Linked DNA regions of Homo sapiens. The protein of the gene in region 2 interacts with the protein of the main gene of each other region in a pairwise test. Each region holds a gene or a part of one and is shown on either strand. Other genes may lie near its edges.

Region 1 (3,923 bases), on a different chromosome or scaffold from region 2:
TGATGTCATGAAGCAATTCACACATACCATTTGATTTCAAAGTAAATTTGCTATTACTCACTTTATTTACTGCATAAACATATTGATATAAATGCTTATATCTTGTTCTCCATTTCATAATTTAGAACTTATGTTTTAAAAACGACAACTTCTCACATTTTCCCCCCTTTAAGCATCTACTATAAAGCACTGAGTGTTTAAAGCCTGATGCTTGAATATTCGTTTTTCACAGTACCTTGTATTGTGACTTTCCATCACTTTTCCATGGATTATCACTTGATACTTGTTAATGAAATATTTTGGGACACACAATTTAGAAGAGCAGGCAGTTTTTCTAAAAGAGGTAATCACATTTATTGAAATTGCTTTATAAACAACTATCATAGAGCCTTTAAACTTCTACGTTTCAAGTAGTTATAATTTTCCTTCCATAAGTTGACTTTCTGCATGCATAAATAAAAGATAATTGAAGCCAGTCAATATTTGTTAATCGTGTCTTAAGTGTGCAGCGAGAGACACAACTGTTTTCTGCAGCTTCCTACTCTGATAGCCATGATTCTCAACCCTGGCTGCACTCTGAAATCAATTGCTGAATCCGAATTTTTGAAAATAAGATCAGGGCATCTGTAGTTTTAAAAGCTACCCAGTGTTTCTGATGTGAAGTTACTATTGAGAACTACTGGCTTTCAGAATAAAGCCAGTAGTTTCAAACTTCCAAGCACAGCTTTTAAGGTTGTCCACAATCTGGCTCCAATCTTCCTTTCTTGTTTCTTATCTTACTGTAACCCTCTCTTTGCACACCAGCCAAATTCTCTTGGTTATTGTCTGACAGACTGTTTCCTAAAGGATTACATATTGCCAGAGAAGTCCAGAAGAATTAGGATGTTATCCACAGTTAACAGCTTAGAGGGTAAGCTGCAGAGACAGAGTGGTAGCCCAGAGAAAACACCACGAATGATACTTAGTAAACTCTGTAAAGTGTTTGTTGATTGAAATGTTGCCTACTTTTATTACCCCAAATAAACATTCTTATTCGGCTTTCAGTTTTTTATGATATAATTTAAATTACACTTACACACACACACACACACACACACACACACACACACACACCCCCAATACACGGGTCTAAGTTGAGCATTGTTAAAACCCATCAACCAAACATACGTCCAAACCAGTTTAGTAAGTTTTCTAGGGCCTCTATAACTCACCTTCTTTTCTACTTCTCATACATTAGCAACAACTACACGCGTGGAGTGAAAAACATGGGAAAGACCAAAGAGGAATTCTAAAACTGACGGGGACAGAGGGTGGCGCTGGCTTTAAAAACCGGCGTTGAGGAGATACCTGGTTTTTGAGGTTAGTCCGGAGGGCGCAGGAGCTGGCAACAGGAATGGACGCACTCGTATCGGTCTCCGGGATGGAAATCTGGTGCGAGGGTCCCTCAGCCTTCTTCTCGATGCCTACATGGGAAGGATGCCTGGTAATGAGCAAAGCCGTCTCTAGAAGTTGGGAAAACCGGCAGCCTCTGCAGCAGTCTGTGCATCAGTCGCTGAGCAGGCGCCTTGGCAGGCACCGTTCCCTTGGCAACAGGAGCTTCTTCCGGTCCTGAAGCCACGCCTCCCCGGGGGTCCTGGCGATTCAGCCGTTGTGCTATAGCTTCTGGGATTGAAGAGCTCCGGGAAAAGGTCAGAGGCGCGCCGAGGAACTATACATTGAAGAAAAATGTGTGCACAGGTGGCAGGGTGAGCTGCCTATTTCCTGCGAGGAGCCGGGCAGTTCCCGGCGTAGCATCATGGGAGTTGTAGGCTCGCGCACAGCTTTCTGGGAAGCGTTTGGCGTTCGCGTGTGCTGCGTGTTTGTCGCTCGGCCCTGGTCTTCCTGGGGATCCAAGAGGCTGGCGCTGGGTGTGGCGCGGAGAGTGTCGTTACCGGGCACCAGCGTAGCGTTGTGGCAACGACTGCAAGACGATACTGTCCCCCCTGGGGCAAGATGTGCGCCGGAGTTCCCCAGTTGCCCATCGCACCGACTCTTCTCTGGGTTCTGATAGGCCTCCCACCCTGAGTCCCTGTAGAGGTAAAACTGTTAATACAGGAAGGTAGAGGGGAGAACTGGTGTAAAAAGTCAAAAGGTGTTATTCGGCTAATAAAGTATGCCTGTACCCCTGCTTCTTAGTTGTGTGGTCTCCCGAAGAGATTTCTACCAGGCATAATCTCCTGTGAGTAGATTACAGTCTCCAGAATCAAATCGGCAGGTGGTCAGGAAAGGTATTAATAGTCAATACTTAAAGTTGACCACCTTCTTAAATTGCACTTGGATTTTATAGTCATAGTCACAAATGGTCTTCAAATAGAAAATATTTAGGCATACCCTTCCCCACATCTTTTATTACTGCGTTTTCCAACGGACACATTACAGATGCAGTCATTTTAAAGATCTAGCCTTTCAATCTGCCCAACTCCACTAACCTCACCCCCAGCGAATGGCCTCATTCTTCAAATAGGGGTTTGTATCTCTTCATTTTTTTTGTTTGCATGGGTGTAGGATTTCCGACCCCCTGCCCCCCACCGCGCGACCCTTTTCAACTAGCTAGTGTATGTTTACTGCACTGCCTGTTCTTTGGCCTGTCAATTCATTTGGCCTATTAAATGGACTAGGAGGGTGCAAAAAGAGACTAGAAGGAATTATTTCAAAGTAATATGGTAGGGGGGACGGTTGTAAGCGTGTGATTATGGGGTGATTTATCTTTTGTCACTTCTCCAAATTTCCAAATGTAATTGTCATTTTTACAGCGAAAAAACAAAAGCGGCTCTGGATTAGTGATTCTTGTTGAAAGACAAAAACAAAACAAAGACCCTATGGATGCATATCAACATATAAATGTCCTTGTAAAAATGGAGTATGGAAATACATTCTTTCTTACTGTGTGGTCTTAGCCCAATTTACCCTTCTCCGTGCTTCTATCCTCACCTTCAAAAATATAGTATTTATCTTATCTGGTAGTTCTGAGTATTAAAGATAACAGAAATACAGATGTTTGGCACATATTTATTGTTCAATAAATAATGTCCTGTCTTCTTTTGTCTTGAGCTTTTTATTGTGTAAACAAAATTGACCCAAACCGTAACTATGGTGGTTCTTTAACTTCTGAACTTCTAATCGTGAATGCATTGACAGGGAGGTGTTGAACACTTTTCTGTGTGCCTGGGTGTTGTGACTTACTTGTAAGAGATGGAAGCTAATGTGCTTGCGGCCAAAATATAACATTTTTTTTTCTTAGCGATCGGCAGAAATGTTATATTTCAGAAAACTTTCATGGACAGACTCAATTTTTCCTGCTAAAAGTTGATATTTTCTGCCTCTAGGTTGAGTTCATCTCTTTTGGCTTAATATAAAACATTTGGTGAAAACTGGAAATAAAATGGACATATTGAGCATCCAACTTTTCAGGAAAACAAGGCAGATAGATAATTCTTCTACAAAAATGTAGCTAGTCAAATCGTTATCTTAGATAAGTATAGTTGATAGATGGCTTATTACTAGAGATAAATGTTATGAAATAAAGCAGTAAAATAATCTAGAAAAAAATGTTAGCCTTGAAAATATTAAACTTAAAAAAACATAAAGGCTGCCAGGCCCGGTGTCTCACGCCTGTAATCCCAGCACTTTGGGAGGCTGAAGCAGGTGGATCACCAGGTCAGGAATTCAAGACCAGCCTGGCCAACATGGTGAAACCCCATCTCCACTAAAGATACAAAAATTAGCCGGGTGTGGTGGCACGTTCCTGGAATCCCAGCTACTCAAGCGGCTGAGGCAGGAGAATCGCTTGAACCGGGGAGGCAGAGGTTGCGGTGAGCTGAGATTGTGCCATTGCACTCTGGCCTGGGCAAAAGGGTGAGACCCTGCACTCAAAAACAAAACAA
Region 2 (3,923 bases):
AACTTGATTCCACAGTGAATTCATTACTTTAGTAGTTTTCTTCCTATCCGTTAGTCCTCCACACAGCACATGATACACAACACTCGAGGGCTTTCTCTATGGCTTTAAAAATGGATAGCAGGCTGAGTGCGGTGGCTCACGCCTGTAATCCCAGCACTTTTCGGAGGCCGAGGCAGGTGGATCACCTGAGGTCAGGAGTTCGAGACCAGCCTGACCAACATGGAGAAACCCCCTCTCTACTAAAAATGCAAAATTAGCTGGGTGTGGTGGCGCATGGCTGTAATCCCAGCTATTTAGGAGGCTGAGGCAGGAGAATCGCTTGAACCTGGGAGGTGGAGGTTGCCGTGAGCCGAGATCATGCCATTGCACTCCAGCCTGGGCAACAAGAGCGAAACTCTGTCTCCCCCATAAAAAGGATAGCAGGAAGAAAGTACCAACCTGAAAATATGATGGCAATAGGATAATACTTGGTAGATATTATAGAAAGAAGTAGAACAATTAGTAAAGGAAGTAGAACAATTCTGTTTGTTATGGTCATGGAGAAGCATGAAGTATTCAGAAGTGCAAAGCCAAAATAACTTTTACAGATGATTTTCCAAGTTATGGAACGTGTCTCTGTGTGCTTGGGTATATACACATATTGCTAAACTTGGATACAGTTTTTTAAAAATGTGTGTATTTAAGTAGCCACCTTCACTACCTACTCTGAGACAAATGGCTGTGTGGTGTATGGTCGGATGATAGTTACTAGAAACAACTTTTAAGTCATAAAAGACTAACATCCTCTGTTTTCCCAAGGAGATAATATGTACTTTTGATTGACCTTGGATTTGGTCTTCGGACCAGTACAAGTAGAATGTAGGGGATTCCCTTGCTAAGCTACTAGCTTAATAAAAAGTATTCATACAACTCCTGTTCATACAACTTTATGATTGGTCCCCAAACAACCACTTAGAGGCTAGCTGGATATCCTGCTGGCCAGTAACTCTAATAACTTGTTGGAGAAGTATGTAACTGGTGAAGAATACTTATCTAGGTTCTCTAGTAACATTTTATCTTTTATTGCAAAGATGCTCTGATTGTGGCGGCAATGCTTCTTTAATCATAGGGAGGATAATGTAGTGGGAAAAGAATGAGGAATCAAATGAGTGATTTCACTTAAGCTCTCAGAGCCTGGAGCCCTCATATAAGGTAGTGATAATCCGTAACAAGGCTGTCGTGGGAAACAGATGATAGGGTGCAAGTGTTTTGTAGTACTTTAAAGTTTGTAAAACTGTCTTAAGGCACAGTAACATATATGTAAGAATGTACCAGTGTGACTACTTGTGTTATTATGCTATTATATATAATGTGTATATTTGCAATAAAAAGTTATAATTTTTTCCTGTGGACAGAGATTTAGTTTGGGCAAGGGTGGTAGGCAAGTTTTAAATTTTAGCTGTAAAATGCTGATAATATGTTCATGATAGGGTTATTGTAAGTATCAAATGTGTTAAAAGTGCTTAACCCACTGCCAAATATTCTGTCGGAGGTGGTTATTACCATAATGGGTGGTTATTTAAGATGAGACTTTGAACTAAAAAGTAATTTTCAAAATAGGCAACTTGGAAGGTGTTTGTTCAGTTATTAACATAAGATGTGATCATTCATGCTTCTTAGCTATCTTCATTTTAATAAATGTGCATTTTAGACAATCCTGTGGCAAAGTAGTTCTTCTGGAATTGTTTATTTCAATTGCAGGATTTCATATGAGTTAATTTCATAGTTTAAGGTTATGGCAGTTTCCAAGTACAGTTGTCCCTTGGTATCCATGGGAAATTAGTTCCAGAACCTCCCTCTGATGACAGAATTCAAGGATGTTCCAGTCCCTGGAACATGGTATAGTATTTGCATATAACCTATGTGCATCCTCCCGTACACTTGAATCTCTACACTATAATACCTAATACAATGTAAATCATTGTTATACTGTATGCTTGGGGAATAATGACAAGAAAAAATTGTACATGTTCAGTACAGATGCAGTTAAATAATTTTTCTATTCCTGGTTGGTTGAATTCATGGATGTAGAACCCATAGATATGGAGGGCTGACTTGACTGTATAGTGCATTGGCTTTTCAAACAGTAAATCTGCAAAATCTAACTTGGGTCTGTTATGCACAGGATTGCCAAAAAAAAAAAAAAAAACAATTAACATGAAACCATACTAACAGTGAATCTCATAAAAACCTTATTTTTCCCTTCATTTAATCCTTTAGAATAGAGTCATGGACAGTGATTAGAACTACATCCATCTTTAACATTTTAACTTGAGTTCTGCAAACTTCCTATGATTTTTGAAATGGATTTAGAATGGAGGCTTGGATTTTAATACTAGGTCTATGATGTTTTATTTTTATGTATTTATTTATTTTGAGACAGAGCCTCCCTCTGTCACCCAGGCTGGAGTACAGTGGCGTGATCTTGGCTCACTGCAATCTCCACCTCGTGGGTTCAAGCGATTCTTGTGCCTCAGCCCCTGAGTATCTGGGACTACAGACGCGTGCCACCACGTCCAGCTAATTTTTGTATTTTTAATAGAGACAGGGTTTCACCATGTTGGCCAGGCTGGTCTCGAACTCCTGACCTCAGGTGATCCACCCACCTTGGCCTCCCAAAGTGCTGAGATTACAGACATGAGCCACCGCACCCTGCCTGGGTCTGTAATGTTTTTCTGTAACATTTTTTTTTTTCCTTCCCAGTGGTTAATATCTACCCTAGCAAACTTACAGTAATTTTTTTAAAAATTTTGTTTTGTTTCTATGTTTTTTGAAACGAGGTCTTGCCCTGTTGCCAAGGCTGGAGTGCAGTGGCGTGATCACCGCGGTTTTGACCTCCCTGGCTCAAGTAATCTTCCTGAATCAGCCTCTTCAGTAACTAAGACTACAGGAGTGTGCTACCACACCTGGCTAGTTTTTAAAATTTTTTGTGGAGATGTGGTCTCCCTGTGTTGTCCAGGTTAGTCTCAAACTTCTGGACTCAAGTGATCCTTCCATCTCTGCCTCCCAAGTGTTGGGATTACAGGCATCAGCCACCACACCCAGCCATTTCTTTCTTTCTTTTTTTTTTTTTTAATTAAAGAGATAAACCCTATAAATGCCATTTAGAAATTTGAAAGCCTTCTATAAAGAAACTCCTCAAAGGAGGAAAGTTGGCATGGTAAATGGAGAGCTTTTTAAAAATTTCAGTGAATGAATTTGTGGGATGCCAAAAGTTGGTTTAATTTCACCTTTATCAGAATGGGGGAGTTGATTTTTGCCATTTCCTAATCTTTTTTATCTTTTTGTATTTTTTTCCTTATTTTTTTCCCCCCCGAGATAGGGGCTAGCCTTGTTGCACAGGCTGGAGTGCAGTGGCTCAATCATAGCTCGCTGCAACCTTGAACTTCTGGGGTGCACCCCCCACCCCCGCCATTTCAGCTTACTATGTAGCTAGGTCTACAGGCTTGCACTACCCTGCTGGGCCAGGGGTTGATTTTTTTGTTTTGTTTTGTTTTGTTTCGTTTTGAGATCGAGTCTTGCTCTGTCACTCAGGCTGGAGTGCAGTGGCACAGTCTTGGCTCACTGCAACCTCCACCTCTGGGTTCAAGAGATTCTTCTGCCCCAGCCTCCCAAGTAGCTGGGACTACAGGCACCCGCTACCACGCCTAATTTTTGTATTTTTTAGTAGAGACGGGTCTTACCACGTTGGTCAGGCTGGTCTCAAACTTCTGACCACAAGTGATCCGCCCGCCTTGGGCTCCCAAAGTGCTGGGATTACAGGCATGAGCCACTGTGCTGGCTGGGTTGATTTTTTTTTTTTTTTTTTTTTTTTTTTTTTTTTTGGGACAGAGTCTCACTCTGTCTCCCAGGCTGGAGCGCAGTGGCGCGATCTTGGCTCACTG

The links.
Region 1: the proteins of ATL2 (region 2) and ARL6 interact in a two-hybrid assay, tested with the Homo sapiens proteins (one study listed by BioGRID).

The regions. Positions count from the first base shown.
Region 1 is NC_000003.12:97,762,402-97,766,324, reverse strand, and holds the start of ARL6 (ADP-ribosylation factor-like protein 6), read right to left. Parts: upstream 1,568-3,923; 5' UTR 1,348-1,567; intron 335-1,347; exon of another isoform or gene 236-334; intron 1-235. UniProt on the Homo sapiens protein: Involved in membrane protein trafficking at the base of the ciliary organelle. Mediates recruitment onto plasma membrane of the BBSome complex which would constitute a coat complex required for sorting of specific membrane proteins to the primary cilia.
Region 2 is NC_000002.12:38,370,389-38,374,311, reverse strand, and holds part of ATL2 (atlastin-2), read left to right. Parts: intron 1-3,923. UniProt on the Homo sapiens protein: Atlastin-2 (ATL2) is a membrane-anchored GTPase that mediates the GTP-dependent fusion of endoplasmic reticulum (ER) membranes, maintaining the continuous ER network. It facilitates the formation of three-way junctions where ER tubules intersect.